Regions from separate parts of the Homo sapiens genome. Here regions 1, 2, 3, 4, 5 and 7 are each linked to region 6. The links come from fine-mapping of genetic effects on gene expression. A gene starts in region 6. Each other region holds a variant in brackets. All regions are shown on one strand. Distances are from middle to middle. Region 1 overlaps METTL8 (methyltransferase 8, tRNA N3-cytidine). Region 2 overlaps DYNC1I2 (dynein cytoplasmic 1 intermediate chain 2). Region 3 overlaps METTL8 (methyltransferase 8, tRNA N3-cytidine). Region 4 has its middle 55 kb from the start of DLX2-DT. Region 5 has its middle 46 kb from the start of CYBRD1. Region 6 holds the start of CYBRD1 (cytochrome b reductase 1). Region 7 has its middle 53 kb from the start of DYNC1I2.

Region 1 (4,069 bases), 110 kb after region 6:
AAACAACAGTGTAGCAAGTGCCTGCCATAGTTGATGAATAGGAGGTTTCTAGATAACTGGAATTCAGCATTCTAGCATGGGCTGTTGGTTTCCCACATTCTCCTGTTACCCTTTTCCTTTTCTAATAATTTCTTTCTACTTCCTGGTTCTTTGCTCCACCTTAATCAGCATCCATAATCATCTGCCTTACCCAGTCTGACAATTAGAGGTCTTTTAAGCAACTCTTCTCTGGACATTTACCCTTGGCTATTTGGGTCCAGAATCCAGCATTCTAGTGTTGCTGTCACCTACTGCCTATTATACCATCTTTTATTCCCTAGAGTGGATCCTCTACTCATGAGTATTATATAGAATTTGTATATTTAGTGATTTTAAAATATTTTTATATTTTCTAATTATAAAGGTAATTTGGGTTTACATAGAAAAAAGAATATTTTAGGCCAGGCGTGGTAGCTAATGCCTGTAATCCCAGCACTTTGGGAGGCCAAGGCGGGTGGATCACAAGGTCAGGAGTTCAAGACCAGCCTGGCCAACATGGTGAAACCCCACCTGTACTAAAAATACAAAAATTAGCCAGGCATGGTGACAGGGGCCTATAATCCCAGCTACTTGGGAGGCTGAGGCAGAGAATTGCTTGAACCCGGGTGGCAGAGGTTGCAGTGAGCCAAGATCGCGCCACTGCACTCCAGCCTGGGCAACAGAGTGAGACTCTGTCAAAAAAAAAAAAAAAAAAAAAAAGATTTCGAGATATATTAAGAAGAAAATGCAAGGAAGATCTGTGAGCCTTTCAATCAGTGACAACTGCTATAAATTCTACTAGACTTTCCCTATGCATATGCATGTTTCTTGGTATATAGACATTAATTTTTTAAGATGAGACCGTACTATAAATACTATCTTGTACCTGACTTTTTTTTTCTACCTAATAAATCATGGACATCTTTTCATACCATGTTAGTTCATTTTCATCCTGCTGATAAAGACATACCCCAGACTGGGTAATTTATAAAGAAAAAGAGGTTTAATGGACTCACAGTTTCATGTGGCTGGGGAGGCCTCACAATCATGGCAGAAGGCAAAAGGCACAGTTTACATGGCAGCAGGCAAGAGAGAGAATGTGAGCCAAGTGAAAGGGGTTTCCCCTTATAAAACCATCAGATCTCGTGAGACTTATTCACTACCACGAGAATAGTATGGGAGAAACCGCCCCCATGATTCATTTATCTCCCACCAGATGCCTCCCGCAACATGTGGGAATTATGAGAGCTACAATTCAAGATAAGATTTGGGTGGAGACACAGCCAAACCATATCACATACCAATAAATTTAGGGTTTTAGTAACCTTTTTTTTTTTTTTCAGAAACAGAGCCTCACTCTGTCACCTAGGCTGGAGTGCAGTGGTGCAATTATGGCTCACTGCAGTTTCAACCTCCCAGATTCCAGTCATCCTCCTGCCTCAGCCACCCAAGAAGCTGGGACCACAGGTACACACCACCATGCCCAGCTAATTTTTTAATTTTTTGTAGAGATGGGGGTCTCACTATGTTTCCCAGTCTGGTCTTTAACTCCTGGCCTCAAATGATCTGCCTGTCTTGGCCTCCCAAAGTCCTGGGATTACAGGTGTGAGCTACTGGGGCCAGCCTTTAGCAAGATGTTTTTTTTTTTTTTTGAGACGGAGTTTCGCTCTTGTTGCCCAGGCTGGAGTGCAGTGGTG[C/T]GATCTCAGCTCACCGCATCCTCCGCCTCCCGGGTTCAAGCAATTCTCCTGCCTCAGCCTCTCGAGTAGCTGGGATTACAGGCATGTACCACCACACCCAGCTAATTTCGTATTTTTAGTAGAAATGGGGTTTCTCCACGTTGGTCAGGCTGGTCTCAAACTCCCAGCCTCAGGTGATCCGCCCACCTTGGCCTCTCAAAGGGCTGGAATTACAGGGATGAGCCACTGTGCCTGGCTTTAGCAACATTTTTAAGCAGCTACATAATTTTCCTTTCTATGCATGTACAATAATTTAGTCAGTCTTCTAAAAATTAATATTTGTATTGTAGTTTTTCAGTGTAATATACAAATAATGCTATGACAAATCCTTAATATATTCTTCTGATTATATCCATAGGATATATTTTTAGAAACGAAATTTTCTTTCTAATTTTTTCTTTAAAATTTTCATATGTATTACCAAAGCCCCCTCAGGAAAGGTCTCTCAGTTCAGTGCCCCCTCAGTTTGCCAGAATGCCTGTTCCTGCACACCATTTATCACAGTGTTTTTACCTTCGCCAAAATGACAGAAGATTATTTTACTGTTTTCTGTGTGATGGGCTTTCCGCTATCCATATCACCCAGAAAATTAATCTAAGGCAGCGAGTCTCCAGCTTTTTGGTCTCAGGACCTCTAGACACTAAAAAATTATAAAGGCTCCAAAGAACATTTGTTTATGTGGCTTGTAGCTATGGATATTTACTACATTTGAAATGTAACCTAAGAAAAAATTAATTGTTTAAATATTTATTAAATCTTTTTTATCACAACACCTGTAAAAACTGCATTATTAAGTGATTTAAAAATAAGACTAATAAACCCATTGTATGTTATTATGGCATATTTTTATAAAAAATATTTTCCAAAAGAAAAATATTAGAAGAATGGCATTGTTTTACATTTTTTGCAAATCTCAATGTCTCACCTAAGAGATGACTGGATTCTTATATCTGTTTCTGCATTAAGTCTGTTGTGATATGTTGTTCTGGTTGATATATGTGAAGAAATCTGATCTCACACAGATATATTTTATAAGTGGTTAGAAAGGGGAGGAGTGCTTTGTCTCTTCAGATGAATATGGGTATTCTACTTTACTACTACACCAAATCCCAGTAAGTGGTAGTATCTTAAAGGTTAATTGCAATATTACAATTTGAAGCCTTGTCAGTGAATTTTTCATATTCTGCTACATTAAAATCCATTGGTCTGTCTTGTATTATACTTTGACTGGATCTTTAGCCCGTGCTTGATTTTGTATCATCTTATGTTGGTCATCTGGAAAATACTGGCTCATTGAGTTGTATAGGTCTTCCAAATGTTGACACATTTCATTTTATAGTGCCAAAAATATCTTGTTCTCATCTGAACAGTGTTTAAGAATTAGAAAGCTGTTAGGCTTATAGTGGTGAACACAGGTTTTCCAGAATTCTAATTTTTGCTTAAAAGCTTAAATTTTATCAAAGGCAACAAATGGTGTCAGTTGTTTTCTTGGCAGTCTTACTTCATTTATTTTTGAGAAAATACCAAAGTTAAAATGATGCTCTGTGAAAACAATTTTTATTGCTTCATCAAGGAAATGCTTACGTGAAACTGCCTTTTTTTTTTTTCTGTGAGTCCATAGTTGGTGAAGAAGACAGTGATCTTCTGTATAGTTTGATGCCACTGTTTTGATTTAGGCAAAGGTGCTAATGCTTTTATCCACATTGCCTGTGCACCATTGGTGCAAATGGCACTACAGTGTTTTTTTTTTTTAAGGCAAATAATATGTTGATATTATCATGAAAATAATTTTAGCCTTTTGAAGACTGCCTAAAGGGGGGTAGGGTTCCCCAGGAATTCGTGAACCATACTCTGAGAACTTCTAGTTTAAGATTCTCTTACCAGAGATTGATTTGGGAATAGTTTGTGACCAAATTCTGGCCAGTGAAATCTGAGAGCAAGTCTGGCTGGGAAGTTGTGGATAAGTTTCCTCCTCCCTAAAAAGAGACACAGAAAGAGATGGTCCTTTTCTTTTGCTGGATGTTGCCATGTCTGTGTGATGCTTGGGACTGCTGCAGCCATTTTGTAATTGACAGAGGGACTTAGCCTTAGGATGAAGGTGATGCTGCGGAGAGCAGGATGGAGAAATGGCAGGAACCTGGATCCTCGATGACATTGTAGAATAGCAGATGAAACCTTACCTGGAACTTGCCCAATCTTTGGGCTTTCAGTTATGACAGATATTATTTCCTTATCATTTAAGCCACTTTGAGTAGTGCCTTCTGTTATTTGCAGTCAAAAGAATCCTAAAGAGACATTTATTATTAGTGTGATGA
Region 2 (4,069 bases), 190 kb before region 6:
GCACAATACATTTAGTATTACCATTTTTGTCAAATATATTTTTCACTTATGTAAGACATTATAATTTATAACTAGTTTTAGTTGCTACAATGTTTTAATACAACAAATGGTTTCTCTACCTGCCTATATAATTTATCAAGAAAAATAGTAATGAATTAATCTAGAGAAATCCTTCATTTAAAAAATATAAAGAAAGATCTTGGAATTTAAACAAGGTTATGTGTATGCAATGTAAGAAGCAGCCACAGTGAAGATCTACTTTGTACTAAGCAATGAATAGCAACAAGCTTAGGCTTTGTTAAATCAAAAGTTCTATGAGATGGTCTCCAAGGAATGTTCTGTCATTTACATTATGTAAGAGCTCTGTTATCAATGACATAAAATTCCTTGTTGAGGATGTCATTTTAGTCTAAAATCAAGTAACACTGTACCTCAAAATACAGCCAGTACTGAAAATGCACTGGACATACCTGTACATTATTACATTTATTAGGGGCATCTTCAGGCACATAGAGTACAATTCCAAGTACAAAGCTTGAGAAGTAAACTGATCAAAAATGGAAAAATGGGCCAGGCACGGTGGCTCACACCGGTCATCCTGGCACTTTGGGAGGCCGAGGTGGGCAGATCACTTGAGGTCAGGAGTTCGAGACCAGCCTGGCCAACGCGATGAAACCCCATCTCTACTAAAAATCAAAAAGTAGCTGGAAACCATCATTCTCAGCAAACTATCACAAGGACAAAAAACCAAACACCGCATGTTCTCACTCACAGGTGGGAATTGAACAATGAGAACACTTGGACATAGGAAGGAGAACATCACATACCGGGGCCTGTCGTGGGGTGAGGGGAGGGGGGAGGGATAGCATTAGGAGACATACCTAATGTAAATGATGAGTTAATGAGTGCAGCACACCAACATGGCACAAGTATACATATGTAACAAACCTGCACATTGTGCACATGTACCCTAGAACTTAAAAGCATTAAAAAAAAAAAAAGTAGCTGGGTATGGTGACACACACCTGCAATCCCAGCTACTGGGGAGACTGAGGCAGGAGAGTTGCTTGAACCCAGGAGGCAGAGATTGAAGTGAGCCGAGATCACGCCATTGCACCCCAGCCCGGACAACAGAGCAAGACTCTGACTCAAAAAAGAAAAAAAAAAAAAAGGAAAAAAGGAACAAGAGGCCTGGATTACCCCACTGAATAATTGTTCCTAAATTTTTGAGATAACAAATGTAATGCAGCTTCCTAATCTGCAAAGTTAGAGAGAGATTATTTCTCACGACCTTTTATATTTATTCATAAATTACCACCAGTCCCAAAAGAAATTCTTGGCACTTAGAGTGATTCAAACATGTTTAGACAGCATATTTTATAATGTCTTATCTATTCCTACTCCCTGAGTGTATTAATCTTAGACCATCTTAGCCAACTGAAGTTGCACGTACAGGTGCATGCACACATCTCACATGTCTTCATGTATTTTCCTATTATATTTCTTCTAATTGTCTTTATTCTTACATTAACATCGTGTTTGCTCAATATGAGTTCATTAGGTTTCATTCTGAGACCTGGGCACTCTTTTTAAATGTCACATATTTAGAAATGCATTATTTCACTGCCAATATCACCATCACAATATTAATTACCTCTATGAAAGCTGGATATGATTTAGTAGAATTCATCATTTTCTATTACTCTGTGTGTGTGTGTGTGTGTGTGTGTGTGTGTGTGTGTGTGTGTATA[TATAC/C]ATAAAAATGAATATACTCAGCCCTCTTGAAAATTAATGTTTCCAAGTGAGTCTGTGCTCTCAAAGGAGACAACGTACATATTAAGGTTAAAAAGATGTGGCTGGGTGCGGTGGCTCAAGCCTGCTACCCCAGCACTTTGGGAGGCTGAGGTGGGTGGATCACCTGAGGTCAGGAGTTCGAGACCAGCCTGGCCAACATGGTGAAACCCTGTCTTTACTAAAAATACAAAATTAGCTGGGCGCGGTTGTGCATGCTTGTAATCCCAGTTACTTGGGAGGCTGAGGCAGGAGAATCGCTTGAACGTGGGAGGTGGAGGTTGCAGTGAGCCAAGATCGTGCCACTGCACTCCAGCCTGGGCAACAAGAAGGAAATGCCATCTCAAAGAAAAAAAGAAAGATGTAAGGTCACCTCACTCAAAAAGAGGATTTTTCTCTCCGTTAAACTCACAAGAAACCAATTTTGTATTCATTATCTAACAAGAACAAATACTTTAAAAAATATTAACTATTTGTTTTTGTGTTTTACAATTTATCATTAAAAAAACTATGCTTCACACTAAACATAGCACACTACCCTTAGGGCTTTCCAATAAAGTCAACAGTATCTTTAAATTAATGATGTAATCACTACAATGTAAATTCTATGAAAGCAAGGACCATGAATGTTTTATCTTCTGTGGTAAACCATAGTATTTTAATAAAGTTGGTAACTTAATATTTGTTCTATACATGAATAAATATTTTTCTTACCATTATTACTCCCTGTATTAATTTACAATATTCTAAAAGGTCTCTAATAATCTCTGGGTTGTCCATAAAACTCATGGGGACATGTTTTAATTCACATTAATTTAAAAAACTTAAGTGTCAAAGTACTTTTGAAAGCAAACTTGCTGACACTGAATTAAAATAATCTACTATTCAAAATCAGGAACGATGAGTCATAATGTACACAGTATAGTATCTACATAAAAATAATGTATAATATCAAATAAAGACATTTAATAAATATAGTAATTTTTAATCTTGGGAAACATTTTTACTATGGTAATGTTGTAGAAGGGAAAAAAAAACGCTTTCACTTAAAAATGCCAGTTGATTATTAATTGTCTAAAGGAATAGTGGCTGGGTGCAGTGGCTCATGCCTATAATCCCAGCACGTTCGGAGGCCAAGGTGGGTGGATCACTTGAGTCTGGGAATTCGAGTCCAGCCTGGGCAATATGGCAAAACCCTGTCTCTATAAAAAATACAAAAATTAGCCAGGCATGATGGTGCGTGCCTGCAGTCCCAGCTACTCGGGAGGCTGATGTGGGAGGATCGTTTGAGCCCAGGAGGCAGAGGTTGCAGTGAGCCAAGATTGCGCCACTGCCCTCCAGTCTGGGTGACAGAGACCCTGTCTGCAAAAAAAATAAAAAATAAAGGAATAATGACATATTTGTATAAAAATATAGAAGCACAAAATATGAAAAAAAATTTTAACCCTATAAAAATGAATTTACACTAGACAAATTGTCTTTATTCTGTAATGCATACTATTTTATAAGGTAATAACATTATTTCTAAAAAGAAAATTTTGATTTTCCTTAAATGAAAGAGTTATGTCATTTTCCTCCAAAGATAGTATAGCTTAGATTTGTGATTTTGGTTCTATTTGGAAAGCACTTCTCAAATTCAAGCTGGCAAGCTTTATGTGCCTTTTAATTGTTAATGATAACCTGATTATTCAAGAGCTGATTGAAGTATTGAGTTTACAGATCATCCAGCCACCTTGCTTTTTTTTTCTTGCCCTGTCTTTTAGATATTTATTACTGGTTTGTAACTTCAACTAGAGGGACTCAGGCATAAAAAGCTTAAAACTTCTAACAGCTTATGTCTTATTAAAAGGTGTGTTAAGAGATTTTCTTGGTGAGGACATGCAACTTCCTGGCCCAAAATAAGCATTCTTAATCAGCTGTGGATTTTGACTACCTATGTTTAATTTCATTTCAGAAGTCAAAAAGTACATTTAATACTCACTATTTTGTGTGTGTGTGTGTGTGTGTGTGTGAGAGAGACAAAGAGGAATAAGTAGTAATACTTTTCCCAATATGATCTTTGAAAGAAAGCTGAAATCTTACTGAACTTTTGAAAAGCAAGTCCCAACATGTATGCAGGATCCTAAAACAAACACGAAATGTAATTTTACAAGGAAGATGCAAGTTCAGGAATGCTTGACAGTAAACATTCTCAATGTTGTCCTTAGCAGTTATTCCTTACTCTTGACATTTTATGCATTATTATTCTCTATCTTAATTAGCAGAACTAATGACTTAA
Region 3 (4,069 bases), 130 kb after region 6:
TACCTTTGTGTGTATGTGTGGCAAGTGTACCTGAAATCTACTCTTTCAGCAAAAGTCCCAAATATAATACAATATTATTAACTGTAGTCCTCGTATTGTACATTAGATCTGTAGACGTGTTCATCCTACATATCTGCAACTTTGTATCCTTTGATCTACGTCTCCCCGTTTCCTCTCGCCCCTCCCCTATCCATTAAAAACTTAATTCCCCATTCCCCCTTCCCCAACCTCTGCCAAACACCACTCCACTTCCTGTCTCTATCGGTTTGACTACTCTAGGAACCTCATATAAGAGGAATCATACAATATCTATCCTTTTATGACTAGCTTATTTCACTTAGCATAATATCTTTAAGATTCATCCATGGTTGTACCATGTGTCAAAATTTCCTTTCTTTTTAAGGCTGGATAATGTTCCATTGTACATATATATGTATGTATGTATCACATTTTGTTTATCCATTTATCTTCAATGGACACGTGGGTTGCTTCTACCTTTTGTCTATTGTGAATGATGTTGCTATGAATATGGGTGTACAAATATCTCTTTGGTCTCTGCTTTCACTTCTTTTGGGTATATACCCAGAAGTAGAATTGCTGAATCATATGGTAATTGTATGTTTAATTTCTGAGGATTCACCATAATGTTTTTTCATAGCTGCTGTATCATTTTATGTTCCAATAGCAATGAATAAGGGCTCCAATTTCCTAATTTCTCCACATCCTCACCAATACTTGTTATATTCTGGGTTGTTGTTGCTGTTTTTAAATACCAGCCATCCTATTAGGTGTGCTGTTTGTTTTGATTTTAATTACAAATGTAATTAATAAATTTAGGGCTATTCAGATTTTCTCTTGTGTTATTTTGTTATTATTGGTAAGTTATGGTTTTCAAGGACTTTGTCCCATCTAATGAATGCAATAAAATTGTCCATAATATCCCAGTATTAGCTTTTCAATGTCTGTAAGGTCTGTGGTGATATCTCATTTTTCATTCCTATTATTGGAAGTTTGTGTTTTGTGAAACACATGTTTGATATCAGTCTTGCCAGAAGTTTATCAGTTTTATTAATCTTTCCAAAGAACTAACTTTTGACTTTGATTTTTCCCTGCTTTGCTCATTTTCCCTCCTTCCCTCTCTCTCTCTCTTTTTTTTTTTTTTTTTTTTTTGAGGCAGGGTTTTGCTCTGTCGCCCAGAATGCAGTGCAATAGCATGATCATAGTTCACTGCAGCCTTGAACTCCTGAACTCAAGTGATCCTCCCTCGTTGGCCTCCCAAGTAGCTGGGACTACAGGCACTGGCTAATTTTGTTTGTTTGAAGTTTTTTGTTGTTGTTGATGTTGTTTTTTTTTTTTTTTTTTTTTTTTTTTAGAGACAGGGTCTCACTATTTTGCCTAGGCTAGTCTCAAAGTCTTGGCCTCAAGCCATCTGCCCACCTTGACCTCCCTCCCAAAGCTCTGAGATTACAGACGTGAACTACCATGCCTGGCCCTGTTTTCTATTTCATTGCTTTCTGTTTTTATTTTTTATTATTTCCTTCTTTCTACTTACTTTGGGTCTAATTTATTCTTATTTTTCTAGCTTGTGAAGATAGAAGCT[G/A]AGGCCAGGCAAGATGGCTGATGCCTGTAATCCCAGCACTTTGGGAGGCTGAGGTGGGAGGATCCCTTGAGCCTAGGAGTTCAAGACTAGCCTGGGCAACATAGGGAGACCCTCTCTTAAAAAAAAAAAAAAAGTAGCCAGGTGTGGTGGTACATGCCTGTAGTACCAGCTACTTGGGAGGCCAAAGCAGGCCTATGAGCTATGATCGTGCCATTGCACTCTAGTCTGGGTGATAGAACAAGACCTTGTCTCAAAAAAGAAAAAAAAAAAAAGATAGAAGCTGAGATTATTGATTTGACATCTTTCTCTTTTGTAATAAAAATATGTAAAACTATAAATTTCTCTCTATACACTGCTTTAGTTGCATCCCATACATTTTGATATTTTCAGATTTTGTTATCATTCAGTTCAACATATTTTCTAATTTCTCTTCAGATTTGTTCTTTTACTCATAGGTTATTTATAGCTGTGTTGCTTAATTCCTTAACATTTGGAAATTTTTGTAGCTATCTTATTATTATTTTGAATTTGGATACAAAAGCAAGGATTGACAATATGCTGCCTATTAGAAAAGCACTGCCTATTAGAAAAGCACACAAATAGACTAAAATTTTTTTAAAAGATACACAGCATGCCATACATGACATTACATTAGACAATTGGTAGGGCTGTATTAATATCAGACAAAGTAGACCTCAAGAAAATGACTGTTACCAGAGATAAGAAGGGACATTTATTAATACAAGTTAATTCATCAAAATATTAACATTTAATATTATTATAGTCAAAAAGCACACTCTGTATGATTTTAATACTTTGGGATTTATTTTTATTTATTTATTTATTTATTTATTTATTCATTGAGACAGAGTCCCACTCTGTCACCCAGGCTGGAGTGCAGTGGCACAATCTCGGCTCACTGCAACCTCCGCCTCCTGGGTTCAAGTGATTCTTGTGCCTCAGCTGATTATAGGCACCCGCCACCATACCCAGCTAATTTTTTTTTGGATTTTTAGTAGAGATGGGGTTTCACCATGTTGGCCAGGCTGGTCTCAAACTCCTGACCTCAGGTGATCTGCCCGCCTCGGACTCCCAAAGTGCTGGTATTACAGGCATGAGCCACTGTGCCTGGCCAGCCAAATTTATCTATTTATTGAGACTTGTTTTATAGCCCAGCGTATGGTCTACCTTGGTGAATGTTCCATGTTCATTTGAAAAGAATGTGTATTCTTGCTATTGCTGTATGATGTTCTTTCTATAAATGTCATCTAGGTCAAGTTAATAATGTTCAAATCTTCTTTATCCTTTTTGATTTTTAGATAGCTTGTCGCTGGTTATTTTTCTATTTATTACTGGAAAAGGGTTGTTAAAATCTCCAAGTATTACTGTGAATTTGTTAAGTTCTCCTTTTAGAAAGTTCTGTCTTTTTGCTTTATTTATTTTACAGCTTTGTTATTAGGTACATGCATAGTTAAGACTGCTATGTTGTCTTGATGAATTGGCTTATTATCATTATTAAATGCCCCTCTTTATCTCTATAATAGTCTTTTCATTGAAGTCTACTTTGTCTATTAATATAGCCCCACCAGCTTTCTTATGCAGTGTTTGCATAGTATACCTTTTTTTACGTTAATCTATTTGTTTCTTTATATTTAAAGTGCTTGCCTTATAAACAGTATATTGCTGGGTCTTACTTTTTTTAATCCAAGTTAATAATCTGCTTTTTAATTGGAGCCCATTTATATTTATTGTAAGTATTGATATGGTTGGGTTTACATATGCTATCTTGGTATTTGTTTTCTATTTGTCCTATTTGTTTTTCATTCCTCTGTTCTTCCTTTCTTGCCTTCTTTTGGATGAATGGAATATTTTAAACTGTACCTCTTTGTGTTGTTTCAAATAAAAATACTACTTATTCACACAGTTTTGTTGTGCAATTATCTGAGTTAAACTGGTATTCAAATTAGAGTATGCCAAAAGAGAGCTAAGAGAAGGTACATAAAGGGATTGGGTCATTCTGGTGGCAGAAACCTACTTTTTCTACCACAATTTTATTTGGGGCTGGCCCTGCCCTTCTTTTCCCACAAAATTGAACCATGACCAGCAAACCTTAGGCTAACGTGGTAGTAATAATACAAAGCACATATTTGTTAATCATCGTAGTTAATTTAATTGGATAGCTACCTGTACATTGTCACATTCTTCTATCACTTCCTTCGCACTGCAAGGATCTTAATTAGGATCCACCCTGGAAAATATGAAGTAACTTCCATCCAATTAGATTTATGTCAGACAAATACCATTTTTATGTAATCAGTCAAACAATTCATGAGCAGCCTGGTGCTGCCTCTAGAAGCTTGCAATTTAAGTAAGAAGGCATTTATATAATTTTATTATGTATTTATATTATCTCCTATATACAGTTGTTATATATTTATGTAATAAGATAAATAGCAATGCAAGGCTGTG
Region 4 (4,069 bases), 640 kb before region 6:
ATAAGGGGTTAATCTTCAAAATATATAAGGAACCCCTACAACTCAATAACACAAAAAGTAATTATGCAATTTAAAAATAGGCTAAGAACTTGAATAGACAGTTCTCCAAAGAAGATATACAAATGACCAACAGGCATATGAAAAAATGCTCATTGTCACTGAGGGCTGGGGTGCATGAGTAAGACCATGAGTAGAGTAATGGGGGCCAGATTTGAGCTGGGGTGAGGCCAGTGTCTAGGTCACAAAATAATCAAGGAAATGCCAATCAAAACCACAATGAGGTATCACATCACACCTATCAGAATGGCCATTATTAAAAAAAAAAAAAAGACAACTGTTGGCAAGGGTGTGGAGAAATTGGAATCCTTGAACACTGTTCATGAAAATGAAAAATGATGTAGCCACTGCTGAGGTGGTAGGATCCCTTGAGCCCAGGAGTTCGAGGCTAGCCTGGGCAATATAGCAAGAACTCATCTCTAAATAAATAAATAAAATGGTGCAGCCACTATGGAAAACAGTATGGAGGTTTCTCAAAAATCTAGAAATAGAATTACCAGATGATCCAGCAATCCATTTCTGGGTATATATCTGAAAAAAATGAGATCAGAATCTCAAAGACATATTAGCACTCTTATGTTCATTACAGCACTAGTCACAACAGCCAACAACCAAACCACCTTAATGTTCATCAACAGATGAGTGGATAAAGAAAATGTGGTATATATGAGCAATGTGATACTATTCAGCTTCAAAAAAGAGAAGAATCCCGCAATGTGTGACAACCGGATGAACTTTGTCATTATGCTAAGTGAAATAAGCCAGACACAGAAAGAAAAATATTGCAGGATCCCACTTAGATGAGATAATCTAAAATAGTCAAATTTGTTAGATAAAAGACTAGAATGGTAGTTACCAGGGGCTGTAGGGAAGGGAAAATGGGGATGTATTAATCAATAGGCAAAAAGTTCAGTTAAGTAAGATGAATAAGCTCTGGAGATCTGCTATACTACATTGTACCTATAACCAACAATAATGCGTTACACATTTCTTAAACATGTGTTAAGAGGATAGATCTCACGTTAAAAGTTCTTACCAAAATAAAATTATATATATATGTTATTATAACTATTATTTTATCTATGGTAATATGTCATAAAAGCTAAGAACTGTATCTGAGACTAGTCTGCAGCTATTATTTTAAGCATTATCTATCAAAAACTTTCACCTAAAAAAACTTTTACAAAAGCAACAACAAAACTAAATGCACTCTTGTAAACTGACCTCAATGTGCCAGTGTGGGCCTCCACTTCAGGCTTCAAAAGCAAAGTATACTAGGATGTCAGCTCCATGAGAACACAGCCCTTGTCTGTCTTGTTCCCCATATATCTTCAGTGCCCCCAAACAGTGCCTGGTGCACAGTAATAATTGTTTATTGAGTTTCCCTGAGAGATCTGGATGCTGTAACCCAGGAAACAAGCAGTTACCCCAGTCAGAGTGAGGCTCTTGGGTTCAGGCACATGGGCTGGGATGAAAGAGACAGGGGAGGCAGTGGCCTACACTAGCTAAGACTTTCACACTAGCACATCCAAGAGGCACCACTCCATCAGCTTCAGGGCTTGGCAGATGAGAGGTCCCAAAGGAAGACACACAGTTGAGCCTTCCCCATGTCTGTCTGTCCTGGGCATACCCCTTTCCTGACCACAGGGAGCTACACACCTGCCCATCCTCTTGCCATACTGTTATTTATGGGCTATTTATCCATCTCTGGCTACAAGCTCTGCTTCCCCCATAATCACCAAATTTGGCAACTGGCCTTTGGACTGGTGCCTCAAGCCACTCCCACCTCCGGTTTCAGGAGAACCCCTTTGACTTA[A/G]TGACCTAGACAGTGGCCTCACCCAGCTCAAATCTGTCCCCATTACTCCATTCCTGTCTTACTCACAGACCCTCAGCCCTCAGATACCCCTCGCCTGGAGTAATCACACCAAAAGGTATGCACATCACTCAGTCCCCATCCATTTGTGCCACAGAGCAAAACAAAATAATATTCAGCCTTATTATCAAAGAGGTACAAGTCAAAAATGTAGTATTAGGTAAAGAGCCAGAATGGAGCGTGAGGTCATACAGTTTGAATCTAGCTGAATGGGTGACAGATAATGATCTTTCTGTTCTTCAGACAGGCATCCTGCTCCCCGTTTTCTTCTTCTAAATTCCCCTCTATTCCCTCTCTCAGTCATCCCTAAATCTCTTATCTCCTGCTGTCCTTTCAATATGTCTCCCAGTGTCTTCCATACCTCTTCTATTTCTCTTTTATCCTTATCTAACCAGTATAGAAAACTGATTACAATAAGTAGTGTAAATATTTCTTATGTATGACACTTTTTTTCATCCAATTTGGAATTATAAGGAGAGCATTTGTCAGGATTTAAAGGACAGACTTTCTACAAAATTCATGTTTCCATACTCCAGTTAAACTCTTCTCGAATGTCTAACTCCTGAATTATGGTGTCTATTATGGGTTGGATTTTATCCCCTAAAGAAATATGTTGAAATCCTGACCCCAGTACCTGTGAAAGTGACATTATTGGAAATACGGTCTGTGCAGGTGTAATCATGCTTTACAATGAGTTCATAATGGAATAGGCTGAGTCCTTAATATAATATGACTGGTATCCTCATAAGAGAGGAGAAGCACAGGGACACAGACACACAGGAAGAAGACAGCCATGTGACAATGGCAGCAGAGATTAGAGTGATGCATTTCCAAGTCAGAGAATGCCAAGCATTGCCAGCAAACACCAGAAACTAGAAGGGGCTAGGAAGGATTCTCCACTGCAGGTTTTAGAGGGTGCTAACACCTTGATTTTGGACTCTAGCCTCCAGAACTGTGAGATAATAAAATTCTGTTATTTTAAGCCACCCAATTTGTGGCTTTTTGTTACAGCAGCCCTAAGAAAGTGTCCCTCAGACACTTCTTTTATTTTTTATTTTTTATTTTTTTTGAGATGAAGTCTTGCTCTTGCCACCCAGGCTGGAGGGCAATGGCACAATCTCGGCTCACTGCAACCTCCGCCTCCCAGGTTCAAGCAATTCTCCTGCCTCAGCCTCCTGAGTAGCTGGGATTACAGGCATCTGCCACCATGCCCGGCTAATTTTTGTATTTTTAGTAGAAATGGGGTTTTGTATTTTTAGTAGAAATGGGGTTCCGCCATGTTGGCCGGGCTGGTCTCCAGCTCCTGATTTTGTGATCTGCCCACCTCAGCCCCCCAGAGTGCTAGGATTACAGGTGTAAGCCACCATGCCCGGCCCCTCAGACACTTCTTTAAAAAAAAAATTCTTGGGGCTTCTTTGAGAATTCTTATTATTGACCTTGGTTATTCATTCCTGATTTATCTAATTCTGAGATCAGAGAAGTTGATTATTTATATATCTCAGAAAAAACATGTAACTACAATTTATCGTTAAGTTGATTTTATTTTAACGTGAATGTCCCCCAGTAGCAATGCACTAGCACCTGAGCCATGGTTTATAAATGTCAGTCCCCCTAAGAATCCTTTGATGAAATCCTCATTCCAGGTCTGGAATGGAGAAAAAGTGAGCCTGGGACATTTTGTTGGACCAGAAAGCAATGAAGTGCTCAAAGACCAACCAAGACATGTCAAAAAATTACAGGAACCAGCTTGAAAGAGCTCCTGCTACCCTAACTTGGAAGAACTGGAGCAGCAAATAGAATAAAAGAACAATGATAGTAATGGATGATAACACAATGAATTGCCTAAAAAAATCCACAGTCCATGGTGATACTCAAAAGAAAGAGGGAAAAAGAGAGATCTGATAGAAATGTCAACTAATAAATGTGAAAGGAATGATAATATTAGAAAATGATCATTTTGAGATCACATTTCACATCACATCAAAGCTGTGGAATTTCCTCTCTTCTAGGGGGAGCCTTGTGAAGATAAATTTGGTTTAAGCTGGTGGAAGCCATGGATGTGGAACCCACAGAGATGGAGGGCCGACTGTATAAACAATTATTTTACCGAGTTTCCTATGAAGATGAACAAGGGAACTG
Region 5 (4,069 bases), 46 kb before region 6:
TTGCTCTGTTACCTAGGCTGGAGTGCAGTAGCATGATCATGGCTCACTGCAACCTCAACCACCTCGGCTCAGCAATCCTCCCACCTCAACCTCCCAAGTGGCTGGAACCACAGGTATGTGCCACTGCACCCTGCTAATTTTTTAATTTTTATAGAGATGGGATCTCACTGTGTTGCTGAGGCTGGTCTTGGTCTCAAACGATCCCATCTCAGTTTCCTGAAGTGCTGGGATTATAGGTATCAGCCACTGTACCTGACCGATAATGTGGATATTCTGAGTAGGCATTTGCATATCAATATCTGGTTACCTGTTGCTGCATAACAAATCACTCTAAACTTTGTTCCTTAACATAATGACTGCATTTATTTTGCTCATTAATTTGTAATTTGGGCAGGGCTTGAGAAGGACAGTTTGTCTTTGCTTCTCTTGGCATCAGCAGGGGTGATTTGAGGCTGGTGGCTGGAATCATCTGAAATCTCACAGGTCAGCTAGTTGGTGCTGGGAGCTCAGCAGGGCCTATGGCCACAGCCCCTCCACTTGACCTTTCCATGGGGCTCCTTGGCTTTTTCACACAGTGCTGGCTGGGTTCCGAAGGTAAACATCCCCAGAGAGAAGAGAAGAAGGCAAAAGCTGTGTCCCCTTTGGTGACCTCCTCGGAGAAATCTTACAGATTCACTTCTGCCATATTTTATGGGTTAAAAGTTAGTTGCTGAGGCCAGCCACGATTCAAGGGAAGGGGAATTAGGCTCTACCTTCTGCTGAGAAGAATATCATAGAATTTGTGGACATATTTTAAAATCATCACAATTTGCCCGTTGGACATACATTACCTACATTTTCCCCTACATGCAAAGTAGACTCACTCCCCTGCCCTAAACCCCTTAAACATTGTATCTCCTGTAGCATCAGGCTGGGGCTCAAGGTCCATGATCTTGACATATAAATCAGGTGCAGGAGTGGCTGAGGCTCCTTGGGTGCTGTTCCTGGAGTAGAGCCCCTGCAGTGCAGTTCCTCTCCACCTGAAGACTTGGGAATCAAAGGACAAGCTGCCTCTCTGCTCACTGCACCCAATATATTGTACAATAGTGGAGCAAGCACAGGATAATCGCTGCAGACGCTTCTGTTCAAAAAGGGGGGAAATGGGAGGCACACAGCAGCCACTGGCGCACAGCGATTCTGAAATCCAGCTGAGCGTATGTTGCCAGTTCCTTGATAGGGCTTGGTCCTACACCTGGAAGTTGTCCACCTTGCTTTTGGCTCCACCCACTGCACTCTCGGTCCCACCTTCTGAGCCATTCTTTCTTTTCCATTAAAAGTAGCCCATGTTGGGCTGGGTGCAATGGCTCACATCTGTAATCCCAGCACTTTGGGAGGCCTAGGTGGGCAGATCACCTGGGGTCTGGAGTTCCAGACCAGCATAACCAACATGGAGAAACCCTGTCTCTGCTAAAAATACAAAATTAGCCAGGTGTGGTGGCGCGTACCTGTAGTCCCAGCTACTCGGGAGGCTGAGGTAGGAGAATCTCGCTTGAACCTGGGAGGTGGAGGTTGCAGGTGTGCCGAGATCACACCATGCCACTCCAGCCTGGGCAACAAGAGCGAAACTCCATCTCAAAAAAACAAAAAAA[A/G]GAAAAAAAAAAAGTAGCCCATGTTTGCAGCTGAGTGACAGTCTTTTTAGATTGCTTCCTGCTCTTAGAAGCCTGGAATCCAAAGGCCTGAATGTCCCTTTCACTCCAAGCTAATTCTAATTCTTTTAAAATATGTATATATAGTCTTCTTATTAATCAATTTATAACTAACTCCATTAGGCAAAACCCATACCAATAAATCTCCTTTAGCCCTTCTCTCCCTTCTCCTAAAGCTGCGGTCCAATAATTCCCTTGAGATCTGTAGGCCTTTCAAGCCAGCAATGGTGTGTTGAAAACAAATAAAGAAGGAACAAACAAACAAACAAAAAAGTTGCTAGGCCTTTTGTCTGCTTGAAAGGGCCTATGAAACAACACCTTATGGACTTTCTGAGGTCTCAGCAAAGAGTCTTATAGTCATGCCCAAAAATAAACTCACTTTATTTTTGAACCATATTTTTCTTTATTTTTTTTTTTCCCGAGACAGGGTCTCATTCTGTCACCTAGGCTGGAGTGCAGTGGTGCTACCTCCTCTCATTGCAACCTCCACCTCCCGGGTTCAAGCGATTCTCCTACCTCAGCCTCCCGAGTAGCTGGTACTACAGGTGCACACCACCACACCTGGCTAATTTTTGTTAGTAGGAACAGGGTTTCTCCATGTTGGCCAGGCTGGTCTCGAACTCCTGATCTCAGGTGATCCACCCACCTCAGCCTCCCAAAGTGCTGGGATTATAGGCGAAAGCCACCTCACCCAGCCCTCAAATTGTAGATTCATGAATAAATAGATGTTGTTACTGTTTTAATTTATTAAATTTTGGGGTGGTTTGTTATGCAGCAATAGATAACTGGAACAGAGTTTGGTAGCACAGCAAAAACTGCTAACGTGTGGCAATGGCTTCAGGACTGGGTGGCAGGCAGAATTTGAGAGTCTTCAAGAGACTGTTAGTGGAAACCTCATGGTTCTTGAAGAAGTTATTGGTTAGGGCTTATGGGAAAGCGAGGAAAATGTTACTGAGAGCTGTCATATAGCAGCAAAAAGTTTAGCAACACTGTCACCTGTGGTAACATGGAGAATAGAAAATATACCAAGTTAACTGAACCGTCTATCTAAGGAGATTTTTGGGAAAAGTGTTGAAGAAGCTGCCTGGTTTTTCTCACTGAGTATAGTAAACTTCAAGAGAAAGAGAGAAGTGAAAGAGAACTGTGAAATATAGAGGGGCCAGGAATTGCTGGGTTTGAAAATAAAAGTTTCTCCTTTCTAGCTTCTTCATACGGCAAATGAAATGGCTTCCCGGTGAAGATTGAACCCAGGAGGCAGAGGTTGCAGTGTGGTGAGATTGTGCCACTGCACTCCAGCTTGGGCGACAGAGCAAGACTTCGTCTCCAAAAACAAAAAAAAAAAATTTGGAAAGAACTTAGAGGGGACGGTTTATCTCTGCTCAACTCAGTGTCAGCTGGGGTGGTTCAAAGATTGGGGGCTAGAATAAACTCAAAACTCACTCATTCACGTGTCCGGTTGGCTGATGTTGGCTGTTAGCTGGGAGCTCATGCAGAACTGTTGTCCAAATATCAACACGTGACTTTTCCATGTTGATCGGGTTTGGCTCTTTGTCCCCATCCAAACCTCATGTCAAATTGTAATCCCTATGTGTGGAGGGAGGGACCTGTAATCCCCATATGTTGAGGGAGGGAGGTGATTGGCTCATGGGGTTGGTTTCCCCCCATGCTGTTCTCATGATAGTGAGTGAGTTCTCATGAGATCTGATGGTTTTATAAGGGGCTTTTCTCCACTTTGCTTGGCACTTCTCTCTCCTGCTGCCATGTGAGGAAGGACGCGTTTGCTTCCCCTTCTGCCATGATTGCAAGTTTCCTGAGGCCTCCCCAGTCGTGTGAATTGTGAGTCAATTAAAACTCTTTCCTTTATAAATTACCCACTCTCAAATATTTATTTATAGCATGTGAAAATGGATTAATACACATGTAGTGTTTGATTTCCCCATCAAATGACAAGGTGGTTGGGTTCCCAGAGCAAGCATTGCACACGAGAGAGAGAGAGAGAGAGAGAGAGAGAGAGACAGCGAGCTAGGAAACCTAGTCCCTGAAGTCGCATAGTATTGTCTGCTGCCTTCCTGTTTTGTTTGTTTGTTTTAGAGATGGGGTCTTGCTCTGTTGCATAGGCTAGAGTGCAAGTGGCAGATCATAGCTCAGTGCAGTCTTGAATTCCTGGGCTCAAGCGATCTTCCCACCTAAGCCTCCTGAGTAGCTGGGACTACAGGTGTGTGCCACCATGCCTGGTTAATTTTTATTTTATTAGTAGAGATGGGGTCTTGCTATGTTGGCCAAGCTTGTCTTGAACTCCTGGCTTCAAACTTGGCCTCCCAAAGCGCTGGGATTACAGACACGAGCCACTGCACCAGTCTTGTCTTCGATTCTTTACAAGTGAG
Region 6 (4,069 bases):
AGATATTCCAAGACCTCCAGAAAGCTTTTTGGTATTAGAAGCTGCTCTGAAGAGTTGGGTAGAAGAGGAGACTGGCTCTACTCTTTGAGCAAACAAGGTGTAGACAGCTCGGGGCCAAACTTAAGGGCTCCACCACGAAGGAAAGAGTGCTTCTGACAGTTACTTTGGAACTTGAGTATGTTTTTTTCTTATAAGCATAGTGGCAAAATAACTGAGAGTTACGCAACGAAATGCCTTAGGTGCCCAGTGGTGCTCACACCCTGATGCCGATCTCACACCCTGATGCCGATCTCACACCAGGGAAGCCTTTGAATGCTGAGGGTTAGTAACACCTTCCACTACATTCCAGAGTGGGAGAATGCTGGCCACACTTGCCAAAGCTGCAGTACAAGTTTAAAACAACCAACAAAAACAAAAGCCAAAATCACTTTTCTTTAGGAATGAGGTCAGCACTCTTTTGCACACTCGTTTGTGGGGAGTTAAATATTTGGTGAAGAAAAGGCAGCCTGCCCGCAGGCAAAGCTAGAGATTTCGGCCAGTGGGCATATCTTTCCAAACCCTTGCTACTCCTCTCGATTATTTTCTGCGACATAACACCACTCCACCCCTTGCTGCCTTTCTCTAACTACTTTCTGAAGGCCGTGCCTTTGGGGAAGTGGTTACAAATAAATGGTGTTTGCGCCAAAAGCTAGAGGTTCCTCCAGCTACACGGCAAACCGAAGGAAGCAGTCAGGACATTGAGAGGCACTACACAATGACAACAAACATTGCCAGCGACTGCTGAGCCCCTCCCCCGCGCCAGCCTCAGCCCAGAGAATGCAGGCCCGGGGCTGGCTCGCCGCGGGCCAAACACGGACGCAGCTTGCGCCGGGGGCATCCCGAGCAGAGGCATCCCTCGGTGCCAGGCAGCCGCGGGCCCTCTCCGGGCATCTCCCACCCGGAGTGCTGGGCCAGTGCCCAATAGGAAGCCCCGCGGGGGAACTTTCGCCACTCTTCTGCCACATAAACAAGTCGGGCTCAAGACCGTCCAATGACTGGGCAGGGCGGCGAAACACACTTGGAAGTCCTGGCAGCTTCCCGGACTCGACTGAGTTTAACACTCTAGGAGGAGAGGAACCCAGGGCGGATGCTTCACTCGCCCCCCTTGGCCAGCCCCTTTACCCAGGGCCGAGGATGTTACAAATACGGGCAAATTCTCGCTCCGGCAATCTTTTCCCCGCTGCCTTCCCCTCCTCATCTGCAGCCTGGAAGCAAGTTCAGCAAAAGGCTGAGGCGAAAGTGTTTCCGCGCCCCCGATCGCGCAGGCTCGGTCCACAGGGGCGACTTTCCGGGGCGCGTGGGCTGCAGCGGCCCGACTGCGCGGCGCTCCGGCATCGCGCCCGGGCTCAAGTTTCTGGGTCTTGGAGGCCCCTCCAGTGCGTCCTAGCCAGTCGCCGCAAAGAGTTAACCAAGTGGGGCCGGCCCCGCTCCGCCGCCCCCAGCAGCGCGTCTCCACCGCGCACCCCCGGCCCCGCGCTCGCGGCGATCCTCCTGAACCGCAGCTCTGTCCCGCCCCAGAGCCAGCCAGCCTCCCTCCCGCCCAGCCGACTTGGCTTCCCGCGCGCTCCTCACCGCACTCCTCCGGGCCCCGCGATCCTCCAGCACTTCCTCAGCTGGAAGGGGCTTCACGGAGGACCCTCTGCCCCCGCCGTTCTCCCCGCTTTCCTCCCCGCACCCCCCCAGGAGGTGCCAGTACCGATGCCCTGGATGAAGACGAAGCCGGTGACCATGAGCACTGGGTGCCAGTTAAACTCTAGTGCGCTCCCATCCCAGCCAAGCCCCTCTCGGTAGTGGAGGACCCAGACGAGGGCGAAGATCACCGACAGGAAGCCGACGAGCAGTGCCGACCCCAGCAGCGCCAGGAAGCGCCAGTAGCCCTCCATGGCCATCAGCGCCCCATACTCCGCACCGCGGGGGCCACAAGAACTTGGAGAGGCGGCGGCAGCCCTCTGGGTAGTGGCCGGGCGGCGGGACCGGGGCGTCGACTTCTTGGGGCTGTCTCCGCCTGCGGGGAGGGACTTTCTGGGCTGCTGGCCCGGAATGTGGGGCCTCTTGGGGGTGGGGAGCTGGCCCCAACTCAGAAATGGGCCCCACCCCCGGGATCACGCGGCCGCCGAGGGCGCTCATTGCCTGGTGGCCTCACCCTCTCCCTCGTCCAGCATCCAAGCTCGCAGAGGGCTTCAGTAACAGACCTAGTTAGTTGCTCAAAGAGAAAATTCCGAGGATTTTATACTCACCACTTGCTTTTAACACTTCCCGTGTCTCGTCCTTATTTGTGGGGAGGTTGAGTAGGGCAGTGGTGCGCCCTCTTGGTTAAGAGAAGAGAGGGATCCGTTGGGTAGGGTTATGTGTGTGCTTTTAACTACTAACGAAGCCTCCTTAGCCACAGTGCTGGAGAATTGGCTGTCTCTGACATCAAAGGGTGTTAAGGAGGAACCTGTAAGGTGGTGTAAACTAAAAATAAAATCCTAAGCCCCTCACTGACTGAATGGACCTCCTTGGCCAAGCAGACCCCAGAAAAACCTTAAAGCTGAGTTTCTAGCTACAGCCGGAAGGGAAGTCTACCCCCTCCATTTTGGAATTTAGACTCAACAGCTGACTAGCATTAATGTTTAAAATAGAAATCATAAGGCGGACAGAACAGACTCTTTGTAGCAATAAGACATCAAATTATAAAAAGGACCTAAGTCACACACTCCTACACTTAAGAAATAAACTATGGTCTAACTGCCACAAAGGTTTTCTTTTCCTCTAGAGGCTAAACAAGCACTGGCTTGAGATAAGCAATATTAAAACAATTACAACTTAATCAGTTCACAGATGCTGACCAGCTGAACCCCTGTTGCACCAGCCAGAACTACAGCTTTCACTGGGCTGATTTCAGGAACTTTTTCATGATAAGAAGACCGACCATGGACCGGTTCTGGCCAGTGTACAGGGATTGTGCACTTGTATGCATTCACGTCCTGAAAAGACCTTTTGAAGTGTAGGTTTGAAGTAATACATTTAAATGTATTTGAAGTAATACAATTAAATGTTAAGTCTCCACCCCAAAGAGAACATGTTACATGCATGTTTGTTCAATATGCATGTGTAAGGACCACCTCCATTAATATTCATAGCTCCTCCTGTAACCTGTTACGTATGTATGTTTGGCCAAACTGTTCAGCATAAAGCTCCTACCCCAACCCCTCTGCCTTCCAAGTGCCTGTCTCTGGTCTTAGGCCAGAGGCTATGTTTATCAGCCTATGGAATGGCCTCCTTGCAGGCTATAACCTTTTATAAGAAATAAAGTCTCCTCTTTTTTCAAATTTATAATTTTTTGTTTTAAGTTAACAGTAAAGGCCAGGCGCAGTGCCTCACACCTGTAATCTTAGCACTTTGGGAGGCTAAGGCGGGCAGATCACTTGAGTCCAGGAGTTTGAGAACAGCCTGGGCAACAAGGTGAAACCCTGTCTCTACTGAAAATACAAATGCATGCACCTGTAGCCCCAGCTACTTGGGGGACTGAGGAAGGAGGATCACTTGAGCCCAGAAGGTCGAGGCTGCAGTGAGCTGAGGTTGCACCACTGCACTTCAGCTTGGGTGACAAAGTGAGACTCTGTCTCAAAAAAAAACAAAAAACAAAAAACAAAAAAAACCCAGTAAACCGGGTCCCCATGAGGTGTCTCACAGCTGTAATCCCAGGGCTTTGGGAGGTGGAGGCAAGAGAATCACTTGAGCTCAGGAGAGGTATGATCGCACCACTGCACTGCAGCCTGGTGACAGCTAGACTCTGTCTGGAAACAAAACAAAAACAGCATGGGCAGCGGTGGGCTTGGCCTTATCCTGCAATGAAACTACTTGCAGTTTGCTCTTGAGAGAGGGAAGACAGGAACCTCCTGGACCTGGACTTGCCGTTTAGTGTGACAAATGGATTTTCAAAGTGCCCGCCCACCCAAACCAATTTGAACCAAAGCCCCTCCTTGATGAAGTGAAGCTTGCTCCCTGCCCTCTTTCCAACATTATCCTCACCCTTCTCCACTGGACA
Region 7 (4,069 bases), 110 kb before region 6:
ATATAGTATACTAACATTTTTCGAAGACAGTAGATTTAGGTGATCCTCCCCCAACCACAAAAGTAACTAAATGAGATGATGGATATGTTAAATTGCTTACTTGTAGTAATTATTTTACTATGTATGTGTATATCAAAATATCATATTATACACTTAAATTTATATAATAAAAAACAAACAACACTGGGAGGCTGAGGTGGGCAGATCACGAGGTCAGGAGATTAAGACTATCCTGGCCAACACGGTGAAACCCTGTCTCTACTAAAAATACAAAAATTAGCTGGGTGTGGTGGTGTGTGCCTGTAATCCCAGCTACTCGGGAGGCTGAGGCAGGAGAATTGCTTGAACCAGGGAGGCAGAGTTTGCAGTGAACGGAGATTGTGCCACTGCACTGTAGCTTGGCGACAAAGTGAGACTCTGTCTCAAAAAAAAAAAAAAAAAAAGGACCACAGAATAATAATGATCTAAAATCCAGAGATTTTTAAAAACTAAATAACAGAACATATTATTGTGGTTTTTAAAATCCTTATAAAGTTCACACATAATCATGTAGATAATTCAAGCAACTAAGAAAAACGTGAATAAAAAAGTAAAAGTTATTTATTCACATTTCTTTTGGCCCAGAAGCAATAAGTGTGTTTTAGTAACAATGCTTTGAAGTCTTTCTCTACAAACACAAACACTTTTTTTATTTAAATGGTATTTTATATGCATATTGCTTATAGCAAGCTCTTTTTAGTTAATAGTGTAGCTTAGAGATCACTCCATGATAACAATTATATATATATGGAATATTTTTTTTGAGACAGAGTTTTGCTCTTGTTGACCAGGCTGGAGTGCAATAGCATGATCTCGGCTCACTGCAAGCTCCGCCCCCTAGGTTCAAGTGATTGTCCTTCCTCAGCCTCACAAGTAGCTGGGATTACAGGCATGCACCACCACGCCTAGCTAATTTTGTATTTTTAGTAGAGATGAGGTTTTACCTTGGTGGTCAGGTTAGTCTCAAACTCCTGACCTCAGGTGATCCACCTGCCTCAGCTTCCCAAACTGCGGGAATTACAGGTATAGGCCACCATGCCTGGCCTATATAGAATATTTTTAAAATGCGAGTTTAATATTCCATTAGATGGGGCTAGACATGGTGGCTCATGCATGCAATCCTAGAACTTTGGGAGGGCTGAGGCAGGCGGATCACTTGAAGCCAGGAGTTTGAGACCAGCCTGGCCAACATAGCGAAATGCCATCTCTACTAAAAATACAAAAAATTAGCTGGGCGGGGTGGTGTGTACCTGTAATTCCAGCTACTCCAGAGGCTGAGACATGAGAATTGCTTAAACTTGGGAGGTGGAGGTTGCAGTGAGCTGAGATTGCACCACTGCACGCCAGCCTGAGTGACAGAGGAAGACTGTGTCTTCAAAAAAAAAAAAAAAAAAAATTCCATTAGATGGATGCAGCATAACTTACTTAGGGAATTTTTCTTAGATTTAACATATTTAATATTTTTCTATTATAGATAACACATGGCAAAAAAAAACTTGTAGCTAAACCTTTGAACATTTTCTTATGTAAATCATAGGATAAATTGCTATACACTGTTTATGGAAATCTACAGTGCCTTTGAAAGTTTGTTGTTTCTGTTGAGGTATATCCATAGCATTGACATCTCCAAGAGAGAAATAATAAGTATAAAGTTCTTGGAACAAACTATTTTTTTCTCCACCTCTGCTGCATTCTTTTTCTGCTAACTACTTATCCTCTGCTTTTTCATCTTGCTCTTGGTTCCAACTGCACCATGGTCTCAGTGCAATATCCTAATTAATATCTGTGGATTGACTAGTTGACTGGCCTCTGTCAGATCAGGTTTCTGGCCCAATAAGCAGTGGTAAGAAAGAAGAGCACAATCCTATGCATGACCTACTCACTGCCCATTCATTAGAAGTGAGGGGATTCTTTTTTTTTATTTTAGAGAAGATTTTGCTATCTTGCCTAGGCTGGAATACAGAAATGCAATGGCTATTCAAAGATATGATCATAAGAACTGTAGCCTCAAACTTTTGGCCTCAAGGGGTCCTCCTGCCTTAGCCTTCCAAGTAGCTGGGAGGGACTACAGGTGCACACCACTGTACTCAGCTGAGTGGTGGCTTCTTTTATGGGTGA[C/T]TTAAAAAATTCAAAAGTATTTAGGAACCCAGGTTGTAAATCAGGAGGTGCTAAAATGATTTGAGGGATATTACAAACTGAACCAAGCCTTGGAAAAATGGTGATTAGCAAGAAACATGAGAGAGTGTTCCTGTATTAGTTAAGAAATGCAGGATTATAAGTGACAAGAACCAAATCAAAACCAGATCAAGTCAATGGTATTTATTGATTTTGACTGGAGTCAGTTTCCTAATTTGGGGAGACTAGGTTATTGGAAATCCAGAAATTAGTACATGTTGGCAAGATTTCAGATTAAGGAAGCCAATGCCTGAAGTTCTCATGGAGACCTAGAATGCTAAAATCATTCCAAAAGGAGACAGGAGGGAAAGGACAAAGGGGACAGAGAGGGAGAGGGAAGGAGGAAGGGGGAAAGAAAGAGAAAGAGAGAGAGGAAGGAAGAGGAGGGAGAAGGGTGGAAGAGAGGAAAAGGCAAAGAAAAGGAAGGAAGGAAGGAAGGAATCACTTATAAACTTTACTTGCTAGTGGAGATTTCCTTGAGTCACACCATATGCAATTCCTTATTCTGAAATCTGAGGGGTCCTTAAAGGGTGTTGGGCCTGCAGGTGCAGACTATGGTGAACAGCTGGGGTGAGGCTGGGTAGTCAGGGAATAAGAATTGAATGGATGTGAAGTTTGTGTATCAGATAATATTCATGCAAATAATTTCAATTTGGAAAAATCTGAGGTCATGATGCAATTTGCCCTTTTCAGTCCCAGATTTCTTCTGGGTTCTATGTTTGTGGCCTAGGACTACTTTTCAAGTTTGAATGAGCCCTAAAGAAATTTGGAGACCATTCAGATTCCAAAAACAAACAAATGAATCTCTTGTCATTTAATGTAACTGTGACAGGATCTCACAGATGAAATGAATCTCAAGAATTTTATTTTTGAGGGCCCAAAGAGAGCTTGGTAAATGTACAATGAGATGTAAGGAAGAGGGAAAGTCACTGAAGTTCTTCAGACATTATGGTTACCAATTATATTAAATTGGTCAGGGTGTTGGGTGTTTGCTGGAGTGAAAAGCATATTTGTTATTTTGTTATCATGATATTAAGAAAATTCACTTTTTTTTGAGACAATCTCACTCTGTCACCTGGGCTGTATGTAGTGCAGTGGTGCAATCACAGCTCATTGCAGCCTCAGTCTCCTAGGCTCAAGAGATCCTCCCACATCAGCCTCCTGAGTAGCTAGGACTACAGGTGTGCACCATCACACCCAGATAATATTTTTAATTTTTATTGGAGATGTGGTCTTGCTGTGTTGCCCAGGTTGGTCTTGAACCCCTGGCTTTAAGCAATCTTCCCACCTTGGCCTCCCAAAGTGCTGGGATTATAGGCATGAGCTACCATGCCCAGCCAGAAAATTCACTTTTAATAATATTGAGATTCAAGGTTTGGATACAAAACAAGATAGAATCATCTAAAGAATTATAACATTTTACTCTAACACTTCTTCCAGTGTTAATTTTACTGGAAAACTTGCCTCAACACCCAAAACTAGATGTTAATGGGGAAAATATTTATAACTATTTATTGATGGTATAAACCAAAAAGTATCTGAGACAGGTCTCAATCAGCTTAGAGGTTTATTTTGCTGAAGTTGAGGACACACCCAGGAAAAAGAGACACAAGCCACGGTAGGATCTGCAGCCCATACTTTTTCTGAAGACCAACCTTCCTTCCTTCCTTCCTTTCTTCCTTCCTTCCTTCCTTCTGATTCTCATTCTGTCATCCAGGCTGGAGTTTAATGGCGCAACCTCAGCTCACTTCAACCTCCGCCTCTTGGGTTCAACATCTGCCTCGCCAGTTCAAGCAATTCTCCTGCCTCAGCCTCCCAAGTAGCTGGGATTACAGGTGTGCACCACCATGTCCAG

What was found.
Region 1: its variant is fine-mapped to the expression of CYBRD1 in whole blood (TOPMed, PIP above 0.99).
Region 2: its variant is fine-mapped to the expression of CYBRD1 in whole blood (INTERVAL, PIP above 0.99).
Region 3: its variant is fine-mapped to the expression of CYBRD1 in whole blood (TOPMed, PIP 0.99).
Region 4: its variant is fine-mapped to the expression of CYBRD1 in hippocampus (GTEx, PIP 0.95).
Region 5: its variant is fine-mapped to the expression of CYBRD1 in whole blood (INTERVAL, PIP 0.96).
Region 7: its variant is fine-mapped to the expression of CYBRD1 in whole blood (TOPMed, PIP above 0.99).

What each region holds. Positions count from the first base shown.
Region 1 is chr2:171,412,019-171,416,087 of GRCh38, reverse strand. All of the region lies in intron 1 of METTL8 (methyltransferase 8, tRNA N3-cytidine), which reads left to right. Among named protein-coding and RNA genes, the nearest start is that of METTL8, 20 kb to the left of the region's middle. RefSeq lists an enhancer at 1-41. The variant C/T (reference allele first, on the strand shown) is at 1,716.
Region 2 is chr2:171,707,802-171,711,870 of GRCh38, reverse strand. The region is part of intron 5 of DYNC1I2 (dynein cytoplasmic 1 intermediate chain 2); the gene reads right to left. Among named protein-coding and RNA genes, the nearest start is that of DYNC1I2, 22 kb to the right of the region's middle. The variant TATAC/C (reference allele first, on the strand shown) is at 1,752.
Region 3 is chr2:171,394,655-171,398,723 of GRCh38, reverse strand. All of the region lies in intron 1 of METTL8 (methyltransferase 8, tRNA N3-cytidine), which reads left to right. Among named protein-coding and RNA genes, the nearest start is that of METTL8, 37 kb to the left of the region's middle. The variant G/A (reference allele first, on the strand shown) is at 1,601.
Region 4 is chr2:172,156,423-172,160,491 of GRCh38, reverse strand. No RefSeq gene overlaps it. Among named protein-coding and RNA genes, the nearest start is that of DLX2-DT, 55 kb to the right of the region's middle. The variant A/G (reference allele first, on the strand shown) is at 1,874.
Region 5 is chr2:171,566,893-171,570,961 of GRCh38, reverse strand. No RefSeq gene overlaps it. Among named protein-coding and RNA genes, the nearest start is that of CYBRD1, 46 kb to the right of the region's middle. RefSeq lists a silencer at 2,884-3,055. The variant A/G (reference allele first, on the strand shown) is at 1,629.
Region 6 is chr2:171,520,405-171,524,473 of GRCh38, reverse strand. CYBRD1 (cytochrome b reductase 1) reads right to left here and starts at 2,000. Exons shown (of 4, transcript NM_024843.4): 1 at 1,736-2,000. The coding sequence starts at 1,928. RefSeq lists silencers at 1,362-1,431, 1,582-1,691 and an enhancer at 1,802-1,911.
Region 7 is chr2:171,632,317-171,636,385 of GRCh38, reverse strand. No RefSeq gene overlaps it. Among named protein-coding and RNA genes, the nearest start is that of DYNC1I2, 53 kb to the left of the region's middle. The variant C/T (reference allele first, on the strand shown) is at 2,158.